Homo sapiens: one gene and its partners. The protein of the gene in region 4 interacts with the protein of the main gene of each other region in a biochemical or structural test. Each region holds a gene or a part of one and is shown on either strand. Other genes may lie near its edges.

The links.
Region 1: of the proteins of UBE2L3 (region 4) and UBA7, one has a biochemical effect on the other in vitro, tested with the Homo sapiens proteins (2 studies listed by BioGRID).
Region 2: the proteins of UBE2L3 (region 4) and BRAP form a complex in vitro, tested with the Homo sapiens proteins (one large-scale study listed by BioGRID).
Region 3: the proteins of UBE2L3 (region 4) and PIAS2 form a complex in vitro, tested with the Homo sapiens proteins (one large-scale study listed by BioGRID).
Region 5: the proteins of UBE2L3 (region 4) and RNF19B form a complex in vitro, tested with the Homo sapiens proteins (one large-scale study listed by BioGRID).
Region 6: the proteins of UBE2L3 (region 4) and HERC1 form a complex in vitro, tested with the Homo sapiens proteins (one large-scale study listed by BioGRID).
Region 7: the proteins of UBE2L3 (region 4) and ATXN3 form a complex in vitro, tested with the Homo sapiens proteins (one study listed by BioGRID).

The regions. Positions count from the first base shown.
Region 1 is NC_000003.12:49,807,832-49,810,953, reverse strand, and holds part of UBA7 (ubiquitin-like modifier-activating enzyme 7), read left to right. Parts: intron 1-121; coding exon 122-202; intron 203-281; coding exon 282-437; intron 438-525; coding exon 526-691; intron 692-770; coding exon 771-976; intron 977-1,074; coding exon 1,075-1,139; intron 1,140-1,228; coding exon 1,229-1,412; intron 1,413-1,489; coding exon 1,490-1,564; intron 1,565-1,794; coding exon 1,795-1,978; intron 1,979-2,485; coding exon 2,486-2,568; intron 2,569-2,841; coding exon 2,842-2,934; intron 2,935-3,026; coding exon 3,027-3,122. UniProt on the Homo sapiens protein: E1-activating enzyme that catalyzes the covalent conjugation of the ubiquitin-like protein product of ISG15 to additional interferon stimulated proteins (ISGs) as well as other cellular proteins such as P53 in a process termed protein ISGylation.
Region 2 is NC_000012.12:111,679,457-111,682,956, forward strand, and holds part of BRAP (BRCA1-associated protein), read right to left. Parts: intron 2,380-3,500; coding exon 2,181-2,379; intron 1-2,180. UniProt on the Homo sapiens protein: Negatively regulates MAP kinase activation by limiting the formation of Raf/MEK complexes probably by inactivation of the KSR1 scaffold protein.
Region 3 is NC_000018.10:46,886,508-46,890,007, reverse strand, and holds part of PIAS2 (E3 SUMO-protein ligase PIAS2), read left to right. Parts: intron 1-3,500. UniProt on the Homo sapiens protein: Functions as an E3-type small ubiquitin-like modifier (SUMO) ligase, stabilizing the interaction between UBE2I and the substrate, and as a SUMO-tethering factor.
Region 4 is NC_000022.11:21,574,214-21,577,713, forward strand, and holds part of UBE2L3 (ubiquitin-conjugating enzyme E2 L3), read left to right. Parts: intron 1-3,500. UniProt on the Homo sapiens protein: Ubiquitin-conjugating enzyme E2 that specifically acts with HECT-type and RBR family E3 ubiquitin-protein ligases.
Region 5 is NC_000001.11:32,944,310-32,947,809, reverse strand, and holds part of RNF19B (E3 ubiquitin-protein ligase RNF19B), read left to right. Parts: intron 1-1,245; coding exon 1,246-1,408; intron 1,409-2,181; coding exon 2,182-2,296; intron 2,297-3,500.
Region 6 is NC_000015.10:63,655,949-63,659,448, forward strand, and holds part of HERC1 (probable E3 ubiquitin-protein ligase HERC1), read right to left. Parts: intron 2,786-3,500; coding exon of another isoform or gene 2,771-2,785; coding exon 2,596-2,770; intron 411-2,595; coding exon 140-410; intron 8-139; coding exon 1-7. UniProt on the Homo sapiens protein: Involved in membrane trafficking via some guanine nucleotide exchange factor (GEF) activity and its ability to bind clathrin. Acts as a GEF for Arf and Rab, by exchanging bound GDP for free GTP.
Region 7 is NC_000014.9:92,082,583-92,086,082, forward strand, and holds part of ATXN3 (ataxin-3 reference isoform), read right to left. Parts: intron 922-3,500; exon of another isoform or gene 831-921; intron 677-830; coding exon 544-676; intron 1-543. UniProt on the Homo sapiens protein: Deubiquitinating enzyme involved in protein homeostasis maintenance, transcription, cytoskeleton regulation, myogenesis and degradation of misfolded chaperone substrates.

The DNA of each region.
Region 1 (3,122 bases), on a different chromosome or scaffold from region 4:
GTCCAAAATCAGGACTAGGGGAGAAGCATGAGGAATGCCCTCCAGGTCCTGATTCAGAAAACTCAGTATAAGAAGGAGATGCAGGCCAGTAGCCATCACTGACCCCGTCTCTGTCCCCTAGAGAGGCAGCCGCTATGATGGGCAAATTGCAGTGTTTGGGGCTGGTTTTCAGGAGAAACTGAGACGCCAGCACTACCTCCTGGTGAGCTGTGGGGTGAGACTGGGGGTGCCTTTGGGAGAGCCAGCCCAGCCCCTCTGGCTAAGGCTGTTCCTGCCAACAGGTGGGCGCTGGTGCCATTGGTTGTGAGCTGCTCAAAGTCTTTGCCCTAGTGGGACTGGGGGCCGGGAACAGCGGGGGCTTGACTGTTGTTGACATGGACCACATAGAGCGCTCCAATCTCAGCCGTCAGTTCCTCTTCAGGTCCCAGGACGTTGGTGTGAGTGCTGACCCCTCTCCACACTCCTGCATCCCAGACCGTCCTCCCATACAGCTTCCCACCCAACATCTTCCTGCCTTCTTCCCAGAGACCCAAGGCAGAGGTGGCTGCAGCAGCTGCCCGGGGCCTGAACCCAGACTTACAGGTGATCCCGCTCACCTACCCACTGGATCCCACCACAGAGCACATCTATGGGGATAACTTTTTCTCCCGTGTGGATGGTGTGGCTGCTGCCCTGGACAGTTTCCAGGCCCGTGAGTGCTTGACTTCGGAGGTCAGTCCCTTGCCCACAGCTGTGCCAGTCCCACTTCTGACCCACTGCTCCCTTGCCAGGGCGCTATGTGGCTGCTCGTTGCACCCACTATCTGAAGCCACTGCTGGAGGCAGGCACATCGGGCACCTGGGGCAGTGCTACAGTATTCATGCCACATGTGACTGAGGCCTACAGAGCCCCTGCCTCAGCTGCAGCTTCTGAGGATGCCCCCTACCCTGTCTGTACCGTGCGGTACTTCCCTAGCACAGCCGAGCACACCCTGCAGGTAGGAAGCACCCTGGAGACTCCCACCCCACCCAGCTCAGCCCTCAGCTGCAGACCTGTTCTCCACCTGATACCTCATTCTTCCTCCCTCCTCCACAGTGGGCCCGGCATGAGTTTGAAGAACTCTTCCGACTGTCTGCAGAGACCATCAACCACCACCAACAGTAAGGCCACCAACAGAGGCAGATGGGAGTCCAGGGCTCCAAGCATGAGTCTGCAGGACTCAGTCTCACACTTCCTCCTCTCTCTGCAGGGCACACACTTCCCTGGCAGACATGGATGAGCCACAGACACTCACCTTACTGAAGCCAGTGCTTGGGGTCCTGAGAGTGCGTCCACAGAACTGGCAAGACTGTGTGGCGTGGGCTCTTGGCCACTGGAAACTCTGCTTTCATTATGGCATCAAACAGCTGCTGAGGCACTTCCCACCTAATAAAGTGTGTGGCTAGGGGTTGGGACGCTGGGGGCTCAGGGGGACCAGACTGAGCCCAGCAGCTTCTACTTACCTACCTAGGTGCTTGAGGATGGAACTCCCTTCTGGTCAGGTCCCAAACAGTGTCCCCAGCCCTTGGAGTTTGACACCAACCAAGTGAGTGGGATTCTGTAGGGAGCTCCAAGATAGAGATGTGGCCCCTCAGAGCAGAGGTAGGCATTTCTGCATTCTGCAGAGATGCACAGATGCCCAGAGAGAGCCATGCTTGTGCATATATGGGTGTCTACATGTGAGGCAAAGGCAGGCACTCAAACAGATCCACAAATGGACAGTGACCCCCACCCCATGCACCCATGCCTCTGTTCCTGCTCTTGGTCTGGCTGCAGGACACACACCTCCTCTACGTACTGGCAGCTGCCAACCTGTATGCCCAGATGCATGGGCTGCCTGGCTCACAGGACTGGACTGCACTCAGGGAGCTGCTGAAGCTGCTGCCACAGCCTGACCCCCAACAGATGGCCCCCATCTTTGCTAGTAATCTAGAGCTGGCTTCGGCTTCTGCTGAGTTTGGTGAGGCTCCTGGCCCTGGCCCCTCATGCTGTCTTTCAAAGGCCTGAACCTGTCCTGTCCTCAGCCTGTGCTGCAGAAGGAAGATAGGGCCTAGGGGATCTACAGCCAATTTGCTACCTCTCAGGCCTCCTAACCTCACTCCTCCATAGTTTCAGGCTTATCCTCTGGTCCCTCAGTAGGTCTTCTCCCTGCTGCCTACCCCACATCCCAGTTCTTGTGGCAGATTCTTGGCAAAATAAATAAGTAAATAAATAAAGTCCATTGGTTCCTGGGGAGTGTCTAGCTATGGCCTGCAGGTGAGGACAGGGTCACAGAGGTCATGAGCACACATGGGTGAAGACTGGGGCTTCTAGAGGGGAGATTGTAGCATTAATTAAGGGGGCTTCTTGATTTGATCAGGGAATAGTAAGTGACAGGCTTGGCAAAGACCAAGAATAGGCACAGGGCTCCAAGAAGAGTGCAGGAGACAGGGGCTAAGGACTGCCTCAACATCCCCTCCCCTGACAGGCCCTGAGCAGCAGAAGGAACTGAACAAAGCCCTGGAAGTCTGGAGTGTGGGCCCTCCCCTGAAGCCTCTGATGTTTGAGAAGGTGGGTGCCCAAGTGGCAGTGAGGAGTGGGGCTGGGGAGTTTGTGGAGAAAGGTCAGGAGCTAATAAGGTAGTTTTGGAGCCCCTTGGCCTGAATTCTCCCAGCAAGACCCTGGAAGCAGCTCACATTCCCTGAACCTCAGCCTGTCTGATCAAGAGGAGATGTGGGGCAACCCCCCGACAGAACTGTGTGGAGACTTGTGCAGTGACACGCAGTGGGCCACGGTGAGGGGCACAGCTGCAGTGTTAACACTACTTTGACTTGGGCCTTACAGGATGATGACAGCAACTTCCATGTGGACTTTGTGGTAGCGGCAGCTAGCCTGAGATGTCAGAACTACGGGATTCCACCGGTCAACCGTGCCCAGGTAACCCCACCCCTTGAGGCTTGGGCCTGGAGGTGGAGGGCAAACCCTGGCCCTACGCCTTGGGCCCAGACCAAATCTCTTGTCCTTGGCAGAGCAAGCGAATTGTGGGCCAGATTATCCCAGCCATTGCCACCACTACAGCAGCTGTGGCAGGCCTGTTGGGCCTGGAGCTGTATAAGGTGGTGAGT
Region 2 (3,500 bases), on a different chromosome or scaffold from region 4:
AATGAACTGTTCTATATTATACCCCCCATTGGACTTTTTAATCTTCAGTTCAACATTTATTACGGTTATAAATCTGCATTCGGTAAATTTGCAGTGTTTTACTCTCATCAATGTTTGAATAATAATCTGTCACTGGTGGCCAGGCACAGTAGCTCATGCTCGTAATCCCAGCACTTTGGCAGGCCGAGGCGGGTGGATCACGAGGTCAGGAGATCGAGACCATCCTGGCTAACACGGTGAAACCCCATCTCTACTAAAAATACAAAAAAAATTAGCCGGGCATGGTGGCAGGTGCTTGTAGTCCCAGCTACTTGGGAGGCTGAGGCAGGAGAATGGTGTGAACCTGGGAGGCAGAGCTTGCAGTGAGCCAATATCGCGCCATTGCACTCCAGCCTGGGCCACAGAGCAAGACTCCATCTCAAAAAAAAAAAAAAAAAAAAAAATCTGTCACTGGTTAACTTAAAAGCACAACTCTGGCTATGGACCTCTCTTAAAAGGCCTAAAAAAACAGCTCTAAATATACGAGAGAATTCTGTCTTTTTTTTTTTCAGAGTCTTGCTGCATGGTCTCGGCTCACTGCAACCTCTGACTCCTGGGTTCAAGCAATTCTCCTGCTCAGCCTCCCAAGTAGCTGGGATTACAGACGCGTGCCACCACGCCGGGCTAATTTTTGTATTTTTAGTAGAGATGGGGTTTCACTATGTTGGCCAGGCTGGTTTCGAACTCCTGACCTCGTGATCCCCCGCCTCGGCCTCCCAAAGTACTGGGATTACAGGCGTGAGCCACCACGCCCGGCAAGAGAGAATTCTAAACCATGAGGATGTAACTGAGGATTACAGGAAGTGTTACCAAGTTGAGATGGCTGGAATAGAGAGGAAAGAAAATCCTCCCACAATGCAATTTGTTTTTTGAAATGCTGCAAACTCACTTGACAGCTGTGATCCAGAATGGCTACCTGTGCCGGGTGCAGTGACTCACACCTGTAATCCCAACACTTTGGGAGGCTGAGGTGGGCTGATCACTTGAGGTTAGGAGTTCGAGACCAGCCTAGCCAACATGATGAAACCCCATCTCTGCCAAAAAAAAAAAAAAAATTAACTGGGCGTGGTGGTGTGCACCTGTGGTCCCAGCTACTCTGAGGCAGGAGAATTGCTTGAACCCGGGAGGGGAGGTTGCAGTGAGCCAGGATTGCACCACTGCACTCCAGCCTGAGTTATGGAGTGAGACCCTGTCTCAAAAAAAAACAAAACAAAAAACAAAACAAAAAACAAAACAAAAAACAAAATGGCTACCTGAATAGTCACTGTTTTCCCAGTAGAGATCTGGCAAATGAGTTAGCACAAGAACAGCCTTAAGGTATCAGCTACCATTACCCAAGAAGGTAGTGGCTGGGCTTGTGGATTATCTAGCCAAATGCTTCCTTTCCTTGGGGCTCTAGCAAGCTTTGTTTGAACCACAGAAAATGGTAAAAAAGAGGTAATAAAATTGTAATGAGTTAACTGACTTCTTAGCAGCCTCTTCAGTAAAGATTTGGTGGGGACATGAGACTACAAAGATGCTGTGGATCATTTTCTTTGTCCTTTCAATTCCCCATCACCTTCCATGCCTATCTGCTAAGAAAACATTTTCCTGGCAGGGCGCAGTGGCTCACGCCTGTAATCCCAGCACTTTGGGAGGCTGAGGCGGGCGGATAACCTGAGGTCGGAGTTCAAGACCAGCCTGGCCAACAGGGTGAAACCCCATCTCTACTAAAAATACAAAAAATTAGCTAGGTGTGGTGGTGGGCACCTGTAATCCCAGCTACTTGGGAGGCTGAGGAAGGAGAATCACTTGAACTCAGGAGGCAGAAGATGCAGTGATCTGAGATCGCGCCATTGCACTCCAGCCTGGGCAACGAGACCGAAACTCCATTTCAAAAAAAAAAAAAGAAAACATTTTTCCCACATATTCTCTTAAGTGTATCCACAAGCATTTCTTTTATAAGGAAAAGCTTTGACCCAATCCACAAGATTAATCAAATGTAAAACATCTGAGAATTCTCTAACATACAACAGACAAAAGTATTATTATTTTGAAGCTTAAAATACCCACTTTCCTTCAGGACAAGAGACTATGCTAAAGCAAAGCAAAAAAAAAAAAAAAAAAATTGACTAACCCCCAAGAAAAGAGGGTTTTCTTACTTTGTCTTATATAGGTGCATAATACCATGAACTATTTCAACTGATGGATTTCCACTGAAGAATGAAATCTGGTCTGGAAGCTGTTTGGACGGAGAATCTGGGGCAGCGTTTATGCATTCCTTACTGTGATCTTTACTTCTTTGCGCAGTGGGGGAGGCTTCTGAAGACTTCCTTTCTTCCACTGTAGTTTTTAGTTCATCTTTCACCAGTTAAAAAATAGCAGATTATAAATGGATAGGACATATGCTGAAGGATTTGAACTAGATTAAAATTTCAAGTCAGAGGAATAAACTTTGATAGAGTAATTACAATGTAATGCATTAACAGCTATTATTTGTAGAATAGCTGAGTTTATGAGGGCATCATACTTTAAAGCTCTCTTTGCTCCATAAAAATCTCATTAACACCCTCAGAAACTTAAGGATGGCTATTACATTTGGCAATACCATAATGCAAGCAGGTATCTTCTATCACGAAATCCTAACTGGGACAAACATTCAGGGCTACTAAGGTGGAAATCCAAACCTACCAGTTCTGACCACCTCCATGTTGGAGATGTAGTACTATCTACACATCCACTTCCGCAGATAAAATGAGCTGGCTGGCCGGGTGCAGTGGCTCATGCCTGTAATCCCAGCACTTTGGGAGGTCAAGAGGTTGAGACCATCCTGGCTCACATGGTGAAACCCTGTCTCTACCAAAAATACAAAAATTAGCTGGGTGTAGTAGCGTGCACCTGTAGTCCCAGCTACTTGGGAGGCTGAGAGAGGAAGGAGAATTGCTTGAAACCAGGAGGTGGAGTTGCAGTAAGCCGAGATCATGCCACTGCACTCCCACCTGGGGACAAAGTGAGACTGTCTCAAAAAAAAAAAAAAAAAAAAAGAAAAGAAAGAAAGAAAAAATGAGCTGGCAGAGCAGGGGAAGGCACGACATGTTTATTTGGACACATTAATGATCTGCCACTGAACTAGGTGGTAAGAAATTCTCCCTGGTAGCCGGGTGTGGTGGCTCACACCTGTAATTCCAGCACTTTGGGAGGCCGAGGCAGGTGGATCACTTGAGACCAGGAGTATGAGACCAGCCTGGCTAACATGGAGAAACCTTGTCTCTACTGAAAATACAAAAATTACCCAGGCGTGGTAGAGGGCATCTGTAATCCCAGCTACTTGGGAGGCTGAGGCAGGAAGACTGCTTCAGCCCAGGAGGCTGAGGTTGTAATGACCCGACATTGCACCACTGCACTCTAGCCTGGGCAACAGAGACCCTGCCTCAAAAAAAAAAGTCCCCCCCGTCACTGAACTGAATTGTCAACTCCAACTG
Region 3 (3,500 bases), on a different chromosome or scaffold from region 4:
AGGCTAAATAATACAATAGTATACATTTTTAAAGAAAAATAGTAATCTTTTGCTCACTCCACTACTCATCCCTCAATCTCACTTTCAAGAGGCAACAACCTTAATTATTTTAGCTGTTTCTTCTGGTTTTACTTCTATATTTCTGTGTTATAGGATACCACATTTTGCTTATCCATTGGACACTTGGGTTGCTCCCACATTTTAGCTATTGCGAATAATTCTGTGGACACGGGTATACACGTATCTCTTTGAGACCCTGCTTTTCAATTCTTCTGGCTGTATACCCACAAGTGGAATTGCTGGATCACATAGTCATTCTGTTTTTAGTATTTTGAGGCATCACCATACTGTTTTCCGTGGCAGCTGCATTTTACATTCCCTTCAACAGTGCACAAGGGTTCCAGTTTCTCCACATCCTTAACAACACTTTTATTTTCCTTTTTTTTTTATAGTGGCCATTATAATGGGTGTCAGGTGGTATCTTATTGTAGCTTTGATTTGCATGTCTGTAATGATGGTGATATTGTGCATTTTCATGTGCTTTTTGGCCATTTATGTATCTTTCAAGAAATGTATAGCCAAGTCTCTTGCCCATTTTTGAATTGGTTTGTTTTATTGTTGTTGAGTTTTAGGAGTTCTCTGTATATTCTGGATATAATCCCTTATCAGATATATGAATGTGCAAATATTTTCTCCCACTCTGTGGTTTGCCTTTTTTACTCTGTTGATAGTGTCTTTTGATGTACAACTTAACATTTTTTCATGAAATTCCAATTTGTTTATTTTTTGTTGTTGTTGCCTATGCCTTTGGTGTCATATCCAAGAAATCATTGCTAAACTTCATGCTGTGAAGGTTTTGCCCTGTGTTTTCCTTTAAGAATTTTATAGTTTTAGGTCTTACATTTAAGCCTGATCTCTTTTGAGTTAATTTTCGTATATGGTATTAGGTGAGTGTCCAGCTTTGTTCTTTTGTTTGTGGATATCCAGTTTTTCCCCACCATTTGTTGAAAAGCCTGTCCTTTCCCTCACTGAATGATCTTAGCACCCTTGTCAAAAAGTATTTGACCATGTATGTGAGGTTTTATTTCCAGGTTCTCTGTTCCAAGGTCTCCAACCCTCAGGCCGTGGACTAGCACCAGTCCACAGCCTGTTAGAAACCAGGTCGCACAGCGGGAGGTGAGCAGCAGGAGGTGAGCAGCAGGAATTCGAGCATTACAGCCTGAGCTCCACCTCCTGTCAGATCAGCAGTGGCATTAGATTCTCATAGGTGCAGGAACCCTACTGTGAACTGTGCATGTAAGGGATCTAGATTGCATGCTCCTTACGAGAATCTAATGCCTGATGATCTGAGGTGGAACAGTTTCATCCAGAAACCATTCCCCTGGCCTGTGGGAAAATTGTCTGCCATGAAACTGGTCCTGGCCAAAAAGGTTGTGACTGTTGATTTATTCCATTGGTCTAGATGTCTGTCTTTATGCCAGTATCACAGTTTTGATTACCGTAGCTATGTAATATGTCTTGGAATCAGGAAGAGTGAATTCTCCAGCTTTAATTATTTTGTAAGATTGTTTTGGCTATTTGGGGCCCTTGAGATTCCACGTGAATTTTAGAATGAGTTTTTCTATTTCTGATAAAAAAAAAAAATTGGGATTTTGAGAGGAATTGTAGTGAATCTGTAAATTTGTTTGGGTAGTATTGATATCTTAGCAATATTAAGTCTTTCTTTTCCCACATAGGCTGATGGGGAAAAAAAAAATTAAGTCTTCCAGTACATGAACATGAGCTGTGTTTCTATTTATTTATGTGTTCTTTAATATCTTTCAGCAATGTTTTATAGTTGTTATTGTACAGGTTTTCATTTTCGTGGTTAATTTTGAAATATTTTTTCTTTTTGATACTATTGTAAAAACTACATAATTTCCTTTTCATCATATTTATTATTAGTTTATAAAAATGCAATTGATTTTTGCGTGTTGACTTTGTATTCTGCTACTTTACTGAATTCATTTATTCTAACAGGTTTTTTGTGTGAAATCTTTAAGGTTTACTGTATATAAGAGCCTACCATCTGTGAACAGGAATAATTTTACTTCTTTCTTTTCTGTTTGTATGCCTTTTATTTCTTTTTCTTGCTTAGTTGCTCTGGCTAGAACTTACTCAAGCATTCTTATGGTGTAGAAATCAGATTGCTTCCGTGTGAATGGGAATAGATACAAATCTTATTTATTGATCCTGATTTTGTATTTTGATACTTTTCATATTTTTATAAAGGGACTTACTTTCCATTTAATGTAGCTTTTAAACTGATTTTCTAAGAAATAAACCTTTTATATTTAATTTTATTTCTAAAGTGGCACAGGGAGTTTGACATGCAGTTTTTTAGCTTTTATTTAATGCCCATCAATTGCTTACAATGTGACTAACAAATTTTTGCATTGCTGTGTTATAATTCTTACTGCCTAATGAAGTTATTTACAAATATATTTGAATTTCTTTATGAAATAAATTGGGAAGTAACATTTCATAGTTGATGTGGAAGATTGCTTTCTTTTCTTTCTTGGGAAAACCCTTTTTATTTTCAGTCATGTGAAAACACTTAAACATATCAGTGTGCTTTTTTACCTGTCTTACAGGATTGTACTGCAGCCTGTCTTGGTTAAATCGGAAGGTTTTGAGGGGTAGAGCTAGTTAGTGGGGTTAGTATGGCCTGACTAGTGGCAGGCAATGTGGCTATTTTTTTTTTTTTTTCAATTTTTTGCTTTTTGCTTTATTTATGTTTTAGCAAAACTGGTGATCCAAGCAAGTGGAGTATTGCATTTTATCTCTTTATTACGTTCACTTTGAAATAAGGATTGAGTGTTTGTTCATGTTTTATTATTTGTTTGTACAAAGTCCTATGAGTAGAATTATTGGATCAAGTAAAAAGAACGTTTTAGACTCTTGATAACATATTGCCAAATTATTTTAGTGCCAGTTTAAATTCCACAAGCAAAGTGAGAGAATGCTTGTCATATCTCATTACTTTTTGCCTTTACTGGGTGCTATTGAAAACAGATCTCTGTGATTTTTAGATGAAAACTTGTATCTTGCTTAAATTTTTATTTTTAAAATTAGTAACAGGAGCAAGTATTTTATTTTATTCGATTTTATTTGTTTTTTTTTGGAGGGGGGGGACAGAGTCTTGTTCTGTCGCCCAGGATGGAGGGCGGTGGCGCTGTCTCGGCTCACTGCGGCCTCCACTTCCCCGGGTTCAAGCAGTTCTCCTCTCTCAGCCTCCCGAGTAGCTGAGGCTACAGGCATGTGCCACCACACCGGGCTAATTTTGTATTTTTAGTAGAGATGGGGTTTCGTTACGTTGGCCAGGCTGGTCTTGAACTTCTGACCTGAGGTGATCCACCCGCCTTGGCCTCCCAAAGTGCTGGGATTACAGGTGTGATCCACTGCACCTGGCCAACAAGAGCAAGTATTTTAAATGCTTATTACCCGGTTGTCTGTCTTTT
Region 4 (3,500 bases):
GCAAAGCTGTTTAGAGGAAGACTACAGCATAGCAGTTAAAAGCTCAGGTTCTGGAGTTTCAATCCTGGGCCTGCCATGTCTTAGCTGAGTGACCCTGGGCAAGTTACTTTACCTCTCTGTGCCTTAGTTACTTCGTCCGTGTGTGAAGGTTAAATGAGTTAATATATACCAACTGCTTAGAAGAGTGCCTGGCATATAGTAAGTGTGAGCTACTTGTAGATATTATTGGGAATAACCAAGACATGTTCCAGGGCAGGGAGGTGACCAGCCTGACAGGAGGGGAGGATTTGGAGGAGTGATAGGAGATGGTATTGCAAAGGTGTTTTCGGGACAGGTTGGGGCCAGTCTGCCTGGACATACCCTCATCACTGAGAGCCCATTCTCTTACCTGTGGTACTCTCTTATTCTGTAGGTTGGAGAAAGAGTTACTGAGACAGCTGTGTGAATGTTTGTTTAAAAATGTTGGCTGGGGGCCAGGCGCGGTGGCTCATGCCTGTAATCCTAGCACCTTGGGAGGCCGAGGTGGGCGGATCATGAGGTCAGGAGATTGAGACAATCCTGGCCAACATGGTGAAAACCCATCTCTACCAAAAATACAAAAATTAACCAGGCCTGGTGGTGCGTGCCTGTAATCCCAGCTACTAGGGAGGGGGAGGCAGAAGAATTGCTTGAACCTGAGAGGCAGAGGTTGCAGCGAGCTGAGATCGTGCCACTGCACTCCAGCCTGGGTGACAGAGTGAGACTCTGTCTCAAAAAATGTTGGCTTGGCGCAGTAGCTCACACCTGTAATCCCAGCACTTTGGGAGGCTAAGGCAGGTGGATCACTTGAGGTCAGGAGTTCGAGACCAGCCTGGTCAACATGGTGAAACCCCGTCTCTACTAGAATCACAAAAAAATTAGCTGGGTGTGGTGGCATGTGCCTGTAATCCCAGCTACTCGGGAGGCTGAGGCAGGAGAATTGCTTGAACCCAGGAGGCAGAGGTTGCAGTGAGCCAAGATCATGCCACTGCACTCTGGCCTGGGCAACAGAGTAAGACTCCATCTCAAAAAAAAAAAAAAAAAAAGAAAAGGAAAAAGAAAAATGTTTACTTGGCTGGGCGTGGTGGCTCATATCCGAATCCCAGCACTTTGAGAGGTCAAGGCGGGTGGATCACTTGAGGAGACCAGCATGGGAAACATGACGAAACCCCATCTCTACTAAAAAAAAAAAAAAAAAAATACAAAAATCAGCCGAGTGTGGTGGTGCATGCCTGTAATCCCAGCTACTCTGGAGGCTGAGGCAGGAGAATCGCTTGAATCCGGGAGGCGGAGGTTGCAGTGAGCTGAGATGGTGCCACTGCGCTCCAGCCTGGGTGATAGAGCGAGACTCTCGAAAGAAAAAAGAGAAAAGTTTACTTTTCCCAACAAAGTTGAATAGCTTTTTTTTTTTTTTTTTTTTTTTTTTTTGGAGACGGAGTCTCACTCTGTCACCCAGGCTGGAGTGCAGTGGCACCATCTCAGCTCACTGCAACCTCTGCCTCCCATGTTCAAGCCATTCCTCCTGCCTCAGCCTCCCGAGTAGCTGGAACTACAGATATGCGCCACCATACCCGGCTGATTTTTGTATTTTTAGTAGAGACGGGGTTTCTCCATTTCCCAGGCTGGTCTCGAACTCCTGCCCTCAGGCGATCCACCCACCTTAGCCTCCCAAAGGATTACAGGCGTGAGCCACTGTGCCCAGCTTAAAATTGAATAGCTCTTGAACTCAAAATTTGTCTTTCTAATATCTCAGAAATTTACCTTGCATATTGTAAACATCCAGTGTAGTGTGACAGTCACTGTGTCCAAAGATGAGCATAGGTGCTATGGAAGGCTCCCACAGGTGCTGAACTGGGGCAGGGGTGGAGGTTTGAAAGCAACTTTTTTTTTTTTTTTTTTTTGAGGCGGAGTCTCGCTCTTTCACCCAGGCTGGAGTACAATGGTGTGATCTTGGTTCACTGCAACCTCCGCCTCCCGGGTTCAAGCAATTCTTCTGCCTCAGCCTCCTGAGTAGCTGGGATTACAGGCGCACGCCACCACGCCTGGCTAATTTTTGCATTTTTGTTTTTTTTTGTTTTTTTTTTGAGATGGAATCTTGCTCTGGCGCCCATGCTGGAGTGCAGTGGTGCGATCTCGGCTCACTGCAAGCTCCACCTCCCAGGTTCACGCCATTCTTCTGCCTCAGCCTCCCGAGTAGCCAGGACTACAAGTGCCCGCCACCATGCCCAGCTAATTTTTTTGTATTTTTAGTAGAGACGGGGTTTCACCATGTTAGTCAGGATGGTCTCGATCTCCTGACCTTATGATCCTCCTGCCTCGGTCTCCCAAAGTGCTGGGATTACAGGCGTGAGCCACCATGCCCGGCCCCCAATTTTTGTATTTTTAGTAGAGCTGGGGTTTCACCATGTTGGTTAGGCTGGTCTCAAACTCCTGACCTTGTGATCCGCCCACCTCGGCCTCCCAAAATTCTAGGATTACAGATGTGAGCCACTGCGCCTGGCCGAAAGCAACTCTTGATTGAGAAGTTGAGGTCTCAGATGTAATATTCTTGCTTCTTGTCTTCTCTTTCCTTTTTTTTTTTTTTTTTTTTGAGACGCAGTCTCGCTCTGTCGCCCAAGCTGGAGTGCAGTGGCACGATCTTGGCTCACTGCAACCTTCACCTCTGGGTTCAAGCAATTCTCCCTGCCTCAGCCTCCTGAGTAGCTGGAATTACAGGCGTGTGCCACCATGCCTGGCTAATTTTTTTTTTTTTTTTGAGATGGAGTCTCGCTGTGTTGCCCAGGCTGGAGTGCAGTGGTACAGTCTTGGCTCACTGAAAGCTCCGCCTCCTGGGTTCACGCCATTCTCCTGCTTCACCCTCTCGAGTAGCTGGGACTACAGGCGCTCGCCACTACACCCAGCTAATCTTTTGTATTTTTAGTAGAAACGGGGTTTCACCATGTTAGCCAGGATGGTCTCGATCTCCTGACTTCATGATCCACCCACCTTGGCCTCCCGAAGTGCTGGTATTACAGGCGTGAGCCACCGTGCCTGGCCTGATTTTTGCATTTTTTAGTAGAGACGGGGTTTCATGGTGTTGGCCAGGCTGGTCGTGAACTCCTAACCTCAGGTGATCCGCCTGCCTCAGCCTCCCAAATAGCTGGGATTACAGGCGTGAGCTACCGCACCCAGCCCTTGTCTTCTCTTTCAACCTTGAAGCAGAAAGTTAAGAAAGTTGCTTCTGGTGGCTGTGTAGTTTCTCCTTCTGACCCTTGCTGCACACATACTCTAGAATTCCAGAGCTGTGTGAGGGATCTTGGAAAGCAGACACCAGTGGCCTCTGTTTACAGATGAGGAGGCTGAAGTCAGTGGTGGAGCCAGGCCCAACATCAAGGTCCCCTGCTCTCTGGGCCTTGCTCCTGCTTTTTAGATGGTTGCTTTTGGTCTTGAGGAAGGGACAAGATGGAGAAGAAGAGGGTTCATTTCAGATTCGGTGGCTGTTT
Region 5 (3,500 bases), on a different chromosome or scaffold from region 4:
AAATATCGTCAGTACTTTACACTTCACGTACCTATCTTATCTTACTAAACTGTAAGTATCTTGAGGCTAGAGTTGTGACCTTTTTACAGTTTTTTGCATTTAGTGAGTTCCCAAGGAATTCATTAAGTGAATTCTTTTTTTTTTTTTTTTTAAGACAGAGTTTCTCTCTGTCGCCCAGGCTGGAGTGCAGTGGCTCGATCTCGACTCACTGCAACCTCCACCTCCCAGGTTCAAGTGATTGTCCTGCCTCAGCCTCCTAAGTAGCTGGGATTACAGGCACCTGCCACCATGCCCAGCTAATTTTTGTATTTTTAGTGGAGGCGGGGTTTCACCATGTTAGCCAGCCTGGTCTCGAACTCGAACCTCAGGTGGTCCGCCTGCCTCGGCCTCCCAAAGTTCTGGGATTACAAGCGCGAGCCACCGCGCCCAGCCTCATTGAGTGAATATTAAAATGTTGTGGAGGAGTTAATATTTACAAACAAAATGTTTGCTAATATTTACAAATAAACAAAATGTGTTAATATTTACAAACAAACATTCATTGTGTAAATGAAACACAACACCTTCATTGCCAATTTGTCGAACATTTGAGTACTTACTGTGTGCTAGTCATTGGGGACATAGGGGTGAGTAAGACATGATCCCTATTTTCAAAATTGTTTATCCCTTCTAGTGGAGAAGATAGCACAAAGAGAATGGGCAAAAATGGTTGGGCACAGAAGGGCTGACTGTAAAAGTAGCCAAACTCAGAATACCAAACTGATAGAAAGGTTATGATGAGGTCTTTTTATATCCTCTCCCACGAACATGGTTTGCAGTATCTATTAGGTATGGTAGGACATATGCCAAGAAAACTACACAAATCAGAGTGTTCATTAGTGCAGGGTGCAGTGTGTCTGGATGGGATGTCAAGTGCATAAGGCTATGCAGCATCCCAAGTATTGTCAGTCATGGAAGCTAGATCAGTTTTGGTGGGTTAGGGAAGACAGAATTCAGCAGAGAAGAATGGAAAAGGAATTTCAAGTCTGGAAGCCTGTCTTTACAACAACAACCAAAAAAGTTAAAGAGCCCAGAGCTCTAATAGTCTGGCCTTGTCCTTTGCTCTCCCTTGTGTAATGTATTCATTTCCCATAAACTCTTCTGTTAATCCTTACTGAAAAGAAGGCTGTTGCTGTTATCAAGCCCTATGATAATACTAGCTGTATTTGTAATGTTGACATTAACTTCAGTCTGTTTCCCCTGCAGCCCCTCTGGCTGTACATTCTGGGGCAAGAAGCCATGGAGCCGTAAGAAGAAAATTCTTTGGCAGCTGGGCACGTTGATTGGTGCTCCAGTGGGGATTTCTCTCATTGCTGGCATTGCCATTCCTGCCATGGTCATTGGCATTCCTGTTTATGTTGGAAGGAAGGTAAGAAAGACATGCTGGTTTCTGTGCTTGTTTCAACTTTAGGTTCGTTAGTAAAGGTTTGAGGGAAATGGGAAGGAGCTATGTTTCAGAGCTGCCTGAAAACCAGCTGGTTCTTAGATAAAAATAACCTTACTTTCTTAAATGGATTTTCATAAACCCCCATGAGATCTGAAAGTTCTTATTAACATCCTGGGCCTGGCTTGTCTCAGTGACTTAAAGGTAGAATGCTGGGCCAGGCATGATGGTTCACATTTGTAATACGTGGCCTAGCACTTTGGGAAGCCAAGGCAGGTAGATCAGTTGAGCCCAGGTGTTTGAGACCAGCCTGGGCAACATGACAAAACCCATCTGTACCCAAAAAAATAGAAAAATTAGCTGGGTATGGTGGCATGTGCCTACAGTCCCAGCTACTAGGGAGGCTGAGGTGGGAGGATTGCTTGAGCCCAGGGACGTAGAGGTTGCAGTGAGCCAAGATCGCACCACTGCACTCCAGCCTGCATGACAGACTCCAAAAAAAAAAATAAAAGAAGAAGGTAAAATGCTTACTTCATTCTGCTGGAGTTATTTTGTCTCTTTTTGGATTAACTTTGCCTGTATTACTTTATATCTTCCAGGTCTGAGTTAGGTTAAAATTTGATAAAGATGCCTATTTGGGGTAGAGGATATGTTTTAATATAGATAACTTACAAGTGAATATTCACCTGTCCTTTTTTTCTCTGGCAAAAGATTGATGTCCTAACCTGCTGACCTGGATTTTCTTTTTTTATTCTTAGATTCACAGCAGGTATGAGGGAAGGAAAACCTCCAAACACAAGAGGAATTTGGCTATCACTGGAGGAGTGACTTTGTCGGTCATTGCATCCCCAGTTATTGCTGCAGTTAGTGTTGGTAAGCTAGTCAGGACCACACCTCTTCTCTCTCAGCTTTCTGACCATAGCAGTTTAGCCAGATGGCCAGATGTTTCTCAAAGACTCCTACATTTTATGCGAACCCACCTTGATAGTAAATTCTGTTAGGCACCATGATTATGATTATTTTTAAGTTTTTCAAGCACACCAAATTATCAGAGTGTGCAATCTTTTGTTCTTAAGTTAGTGCCTAGAACTCCATTTGGCACATAGAAAAGGTTGAATTACAGAAACTTATTTTAAGCCCTAGTTTTCACCTTTCATCTTCCTTCTCTACTTGCCATGAAATCCACAAAACAAAATTACTTTTGTTTTGATTTGTTTAATGCTTCACATTACTTTGGGAGGCATAAGAGTTTGTTTTAGAATAATAATAGTGTAACTAACATTTAATGTGGCTCTTCATGTGCCAGGAGTGGTTCTGAGACTTTTGCATATATTAATTTATTTAATCCTCACAATCCTTACAAAAGGAAGCACAATTTTAATAGAAAGGTGCAGTAATTGGCTGGGCGCAGTGGCTCACGCCTGTAATTCCAGTGTTTTGGGAGGCCGAGGCGGGCGGATCACGAGGTCAGGAGATCGAGACCATCCTGGCTAACACGGTGAAACCCCATCTCTACTAAAAATACAGAAAATCAGCCGGGTGTGGTAGCGGGTGCCTGTAGTCCCAGCTACTTGGGAGGCTGAGGCAGGAGAATGGCGTGAACCTGGGAGGCGGAGCTTGCAGTGAGCCGAGATCGTGCCACTGCACTCCAGCCTGGGCAACAGAGTGAGACTCCGTCTCAAAAAAAAAAAAGAAAGGTGCAGTAATTTTCCCAAGGTCACTTAGCTGGGACATGAATCAAGTTAATCTGCCTTCAGATCCTGTTCTCTTAACAGCTAAGCCATTCTACCTCACACAGCAGTAAGATTTTGGAATTAACATCCTGAGGAGATCCTAAACTCCAAGCAGTAGTCACTTATTTAATATTTGATTCTTGATTGGCTCTTGATTGGGTTAGCATTTCAGCAGTGATTAGAAGAGGGGAAAATGAAAGCAACATATATTTACTGTGCAAAACACAGTACATAGCATTCTCATTTGATTATTGACAACCCTGGGAAGATAGGTCCAAGGTTATACAGCTAGTAAATGGAGCCAAGAATCTAATCCAGACCTTTCTGATTTCTAGCCTGGTCAT
Region 6 (3,500 bases), on a different chromosome or scaffold from region 4:
TCAAGTTCTGAAGAAGCAATTGGAAAAACAGACTTAATTTTTACATGTAATTTTGGAACAAAAATATTTCATTTCAAAAGGCTCAAGAATCAGTCAGAAATAATCAATGTAACGGGGAAAAGTACTGAAAGTAGCTTACCTGTGTACACAACTGTACAAGCAGTTTGGCAGCACTAGGAGCATTTGATGCCAGACATCCCACTGCTGTGCTCAAATAGGCCAGGCAAGAGATAGGCTTGTTAGCCTTGCTATGCCCACCTCGTGATCGTTCTGAGGTGCTAGCCATGGCAGAAGGGCTGGTGGAGAGGCCAGCTCTCCCTGCTGCTGCCAAGCACATTAATCGAACTAGCGTTCGGATATCTGTTAGCCCCAGAGACTCAAGACCAGCAGCCAGGCTACAACTGGAACCACTGCCAGTAAAGAAAAACATCTCAGATGGATAAAGAAAATGGATTTCTTAAGGGACCATTTGCAGTCCCACATAACATTCACAGCATCAACAACCATAATAAAATGTAAGCTGCACTATCATTAGCCATACATGTCCTAAGAGTTGCCAAAGGTATCAAGCTGGAAACTGGCATCTAAACGTTCTCTCCTTTTAATAAGTATTGGCATATACTTGAAGTACAATTGAACTGACAAAGTAAAACAGGAATGTTCACAAAGCATAAATTTTCATAAGCTGAACAAACCCATGTCACCGCCCTCCAGATCAAGAAACAGAACATTGCCAGTACCTCAGAAACCTGCTTTGGGCTTTTCTCAGTCACGATGCTCTCAGAAGTAACCACTATCCTGACTTCTAAAGCTACAAGTTAGTTTTGCCTGTTTTTGAACTTTACATCAATTGAATAATTAATATATGTACTCTTTTGTGTCTGGCTTCTTCAATATTATGTTTGTAAGATTCATCCAAATCTTGTAGCATTGAGCAGTTCGTTTTCATTGACATATACATGAAATCTGCCACAGTTCATTTATCCCTACAGATGACAATCAGGCGGTTTCCAACATGGGGCTATTATGAATAGTACTACCATGAATGATTGGTCTTTAGGGGGCACATATTTAAGTATTTCTGTTGGATATATACCCAGAAGTGGATCTCTGGGTCACAGAGTATGTTCCTGTTCAGTTTTAGTTGATACTATCGAACAGTTTTCCAAAGTGGTTATACCAATTCATTTTCTCACTAACAATGTATGGGAGTTTTAGCTGTTTCAGTCACTTTTTTCTCTCTAGTGTTTTAAATGTTTGCCATTCTTGTGGGTGTGCAATGGTATCTCATTGGTGGGTTTTTTGTCTTAGGTTTTTTTTTTTTTTTTTTTGAGACAGGGTCTCACTATGTTTCCCAGGCTGGTCTCAAACTCCTGGCTCAAGGGTTCTTCCCGTCTTGGCCTCCCAATCACACTGGATTTTAATTTTCATTTCTCTGAAGACTCACTGAGGTTGAACATCTTTTCATGTTTATTGGCCATTTGGAGATCCTCTTTTGTGAAACACTTCTTAATGTGTTTTGTCCACTTTCTTCTGGGTTGTCTTTTTCTTGTTAATTTATAGGAATTCTTTACACATTCTGTTGGTTAGATGCATTACTAATATCTTCTCCCATTCTATGGCTTGCTTTTTTACTTTCTTACTTTTCAAATCACTTTTGCTAAACAGAGGTTTTCTATTTTATTGTATTCCAATTTATCAATCTTTTATGGCAGATTCCTTTTGTGACTTGCTTGAGGAATTTTTGCTTGTCCCAAGACCAAGAAGCAATTCTTCTATGTTACCTTCAATAAACTTTATTGATTTATTTTTCTTTTATATTTAGATCTAATAGCCACTTTATAACTATTTGCTTTATATAGTTTGAGGTTGGGACCAAGGCTTTTTTTTTCTATGTGGATAAACCATCAGACCCTGCTTCAGTTACTGAAAAAAACAGCCTTTCTCTATTGCTCTACAGTGTGAACCACTGTCATAAATCAAACCATAAATCAAGTGTTTATTTATATGTATGGGTCAGTTTCTTAACTCTCTTCTGTACTATCCTATTTGCCTATCCTTGAGCCAATAGCACACAGTCTTATGGAAATTTTGTTTTTCTTTCAGGATCTTTCTGCCTTCACTGATTTGCCATTAAATACTCCTGCTTAATCACTTCTTAAACAGCTGTCTTTTAGGTATTTCTGGTTCTCATCCCCTTTTTACATTACACTCCACAGTATCAACACGGCAAGGATCCCCATGATGGCATCTGCAGGCTGACTTAGCTACACAGACGGTCAATACATTTTGACCTTTAGTTTTTGATCCAGCACCATTGGGATCAACAGCCTTAGTTTCCCATTTCAAGCAACAAAATAAAATGTATGCAGTTTACTCAGTTGTGATAATGGCATTATTTTCTACCTAAAAAGAGCCAAGTATTAACTGAATGACCGATTGAGTGAATAACAATGACTACGTCTAACATCTTTCATTCAACAGTACATATTCAAGCTTCTAAAATTCTATCTCACCCTCCCAAACACCACCAGACTTCCAGCTAATGTACACTAGAAGTTAACTTAGCATCATGTGACATAAAATAACACTTACCTGACTGAGAGAAGAGACAGCGCTCTCATGACCATGGTTCTGGCCAGAAGAACCTGAGCAGCAGCAGTCACTCTCCTTAAAGCCACCACACGGTCATGAGGGTTTGCTAGGGCAGCTGCCTGCTCTCCTAACGTTATTCTCCCAGAGGAGCTCTTTTCTACGGAGCCATGGCAACCTGAAAAACATAATTCTGTTTTGTTCTCAACAAGGTAAGAAAAAAATACATCTGAACTACTAAAAACATTTCCTATTCTACAGAGGTTCCATAACAAACCAATGTCTTTTGCTCATCTGGAACTTGGTTATACAGAAAATTTCTTAGGAGAAACTCACATATTTCTAAGTTTGAACTTGGATATTTCTAACTTAGATATTTCTATGTTAACAATGTATTTACCATAGGAGTATTTATACTTAATTTACCAGTAAGTATTTTCTGTTTTGTTCATTTTGCCCATGTATCACATCTACTGATTATAAGTGCTTTGAGAATTTATAAAGGACTGAATTACCAATACTGCCCAATTCTTTATTTTGTATTCCCTATACCAAAAATTTACCACACCCTCTCACCCAAATAAAAAGAAGACTGCACAATAATTTTAAGTTGGTTACAGGATTCTCTTAACACCAAGTTTTTTTTTAAATAACAAGTTCTATAAATCTTTTTATTGCTTCGGTATCATGAAAGACAAAAAAAAATCAAAACATTTATTTTTTCCTCTTGAGACAGGGTCTGGTTCTGTCACCCAGGCTGGAGTGCAGTGGCTCAATCATCACTCACCATAACCTCAAACTCCTGGGATTAAACAATTTTTCTGCCTCAGCCTCCTGAGTAGCTGGGACTAAAGGTGCACACCACCCACCCAGCTACTTTTCTTCATTTTTTTAATAGAAATGGGTCT
Region 7 (3,500 bases), on a different chromosome or scaffold from region 4:
AATAAGCTCTAGTAATATAATGATTGTGTTGCAATTTGAATCCAACTAAGTTTTTTTTTTCCGTTTCTTTTTTTTTTTTTTTTTGAGACAGGGTCTGACTCTCTCGACCAGGCTGGAGTGCGGTAGTGTGATTATGGCTCACTGTAGTCTCTACCTCCCCAGTTTCAGGTGATCCTTCTTCCTCTGCCTCCCAAGTAGCTGGGACTATAGGCATACACCACCACATCTGGCTAATTTTTGTACTATTTGTAGAGATGAGGTTTTGCCATGTTGCCCAGGCTGGTCTCGAACTCCTGGGTTGAAGCAATCAGCCTGCCTCAGCCTCCCGAAGTGCTAGGAATATACCATACCAGCTAACTAAGTTAATATATTTAAGTATTTCAAAGAGTTGATTCAAGTTTAAACTAATAAACTTCACTAAAATATAAGGTCCAAAATAGAGTCGCCAACAACACAAGGACCACATATTCAATCTAAGCATGAAAATTTAATTCTCATAATGAAATACTACCATATATTCCATACTGCAGGCCTCATTTTTACCTTTGCTCTTTTAGTTGTGCTAATTCTTCTCCAATAAGTTTTGGTCGATGCATCTGTTGGACCCTAATCATCTGCAGGAGTTGGTCAGCTTCGCAATCTGGCAGATCACCCTTAACGACAAATATAGAATAACCTAAAAAAAAAAGGCAAAAATCAACCTAACCAGTTAGTAAAGAGATTCAAAATTGATGTAAAACACTAGTAGATAAAAAGGCAGCACAGAACACTGGAAAAAAATACAAGCTGAGGATTCAGAAAGACTTTAGTCCAAATAATGATTCTTATACTTACTAGTAAAGTCGTCTAAGGTAAGTTACTTAAAGTCTCTGAGCCTCACTTTCTCCATTGTAAGACTGGAAGAGCCGTCTCATTGAGTGACTGTGAGAAATAAATATGTCTGTAAAGGGCCCTACTAATATAGTACTTGACTGAGCAGGCTACTCACTTACTGTTGTCAGAGTGGGTAACAGCAACTGATTTAGAATCAGACTGCCTGCATCTGATCCCAGTTCTCCCACTTCCTAGCTGCATTTGTCTTGGTTTCTACTGTTAAACATATGATACTAGTACCTTCCTGTGATGGTTAATATTATCAACTTGATTGGATTGAAGGCTACAAATTATTGTTTCTGGGTGTGTCTGCGAGGGTGTTGCCAAAGGAGATTAACATTTAAGCCAGTGAACTGGGAGAGGTAGACCCACCCTCAAACTGGGTGGTCACCATCTAATCAGCTGCCAGCTCAGCTAGAATAAAGCAGGCAGAAATAAGAGTGTGGAAGTACTAGACTTGCTGAGCCTTCATCTTTCTCCCATGCTGGATGCTTCCTGCCCTCAAACATCAGACTCCAAGTTCTTCATCTTTTGGACTCTTGAACTTACACCAGTGGTTTGCCAGGGGCTCTCAGGCCTTTTGCCACAGACTGAAGGCTGCACTGTCAGCTTCCCTACTTTTGAGGTTTTGGGACTTGGACTGGCTTCCTGGTTCCTCAGCCTGCAGAGAGCCTATTGTGGGACTTCACCTTGTGATCATACGAGTCGATACTCCTTAATACATTACCCTTCATATATACATCTACCTTATTAGTTCTGTCCCTCTAGAGAACCCTAATACACTTACTCACAGGGCTGCTGTGAGGACACAGATAATGTGTGCAATAACTAGTAACATGGCTAAAACTAATCATCTGCGGAAAGAGCTACCCCCACCCTGACCCACACATGTACACCCCTTGTAACTAAAAATAGGGGCTGGGAAGCCAAATACCTAAAAGCTATTTAAGGTGTCAAACGTGTGGTTTGCATCCCAAAAGAATTACATTAGTCTAGTGTGACTGTGTCTAAATATGATTCCAGAAATCCAGGGTTTCCCCAAGCTAGATGCTACACACAAAAACCAAGGATGGGCTATACCTAAAACAATCTAACTGATTTAAGTTTCTCTATCATTAATTTTTTTTTTTTTTTAATTTGAGATGGAGTCTCACTCTGTCACCCAGGCTGGAGTGCAGTGGTGCAATATTAGCTCACTGCAACCTCTGCCTCCCAGGAGGTTCAAGCGATTCTCCTGCCTCAGCCTCCTGAGTAGCTGGGATTACAGGCACCCACCACCACACCCAGTTAATGTTTGTATTTTTAGGAGAGGCAGGGTTTCACCATGTTGGCTGGGCTGGTCTCGAACTCCTGACCTCAGGTGATCTGCCCACCTCGGCCTCCCAAAGTGCTGGGATTACAGGTGTGAGCCACCGCGCCTAGCACATTTTTCTTAAACTTTGGTGTTTGTTATTGGATATCCTTTGTTGGATTAACACATAATGGGACAAAGATTATAAGAACTATTAATGGAAAACCTCAAAATAGTATGTTGAACATTTTTTATGAGGACAACTGTATTCAGAGTTTAGACGGTTTAATGTGTTTTCTGCCAGTAAAATTGTTTCTGTATTGTATAATAAATATGCCAGCTCACCATGGTATTCTATGAAGAGTGTCTGAAGAATGGATACTCTGCCCTGTTCAGGGGCCATGGTAAAGATCTTGGGTTTTATTCAAGACTTCACATATTTTTTTTTTTTAATTTTTTTTTGAGAGTCTCGTTCTGTCACCCAGGCTGGAGTGCAGTGGTATGATCTTGGCTCGCTGTAACCTCTGCCTCCCGGGTTCAAGTGATTCTCCTATCTCAGCCTCCCGAGTAGCTGGGACTACAGGTGCACAACACCACACCCAGTTAATTTTTGTATTTTTTGGTAGAGACAGGGTTTCACCATGTTGGCCAGGCTGGTCTCATCAACTCCTGACCTCAAGTGATCTGCCCCCTCATCCTCCCAAAGTGCTGGGATTGCAGGCATGAGCCACCAAGCCCGGCCTAAGACTTCAGATTTTATTCTAAGTGTGCTGGGAAGCCACTGAAGGACAAAGAGTGAGGGTGGGACATAACAGGCCTTACACTGGTTAAGAAGCACTCTGGGCTGCTCTGTCGGTATAATATATAGGAACCAGAGTACAAGAGTCACCCTTATGGAAATGGAAAACCTGATGGATAGCATGGATAGAGAGAAAAAAATAAGTCTTTCATAGACATGTTCAGTTTGAAACACTTTTTGGATTTCCAAGTGGAGATGCCAAAGCTAGGAGTTAGTCAAAGCTAGGTGTTCAGGGTAGATGTCAAGACTAAAGATAAAAGTTTGGTAATTATTGACACATAGATCTTATTTACAGATGATATTTAAGATCCATGAAAGGAATCTGAAAAGTGCAGGCAGCAAGTTAGGAAAACCACAGCATGGTGGGCTGAAGGCCAAAGGTAGACAGGGTTTCTAAGAAGGGATATCATCAGGAACCAAGGTTTTAAATATAAAAGAAAAAAGATACAAGTATCTAAAATCAAAGAATTAAAAACCCTATATTCCTAAATGTGAATTCACAATAACTACATAACAAACCCAGCAGCAATAAGCATG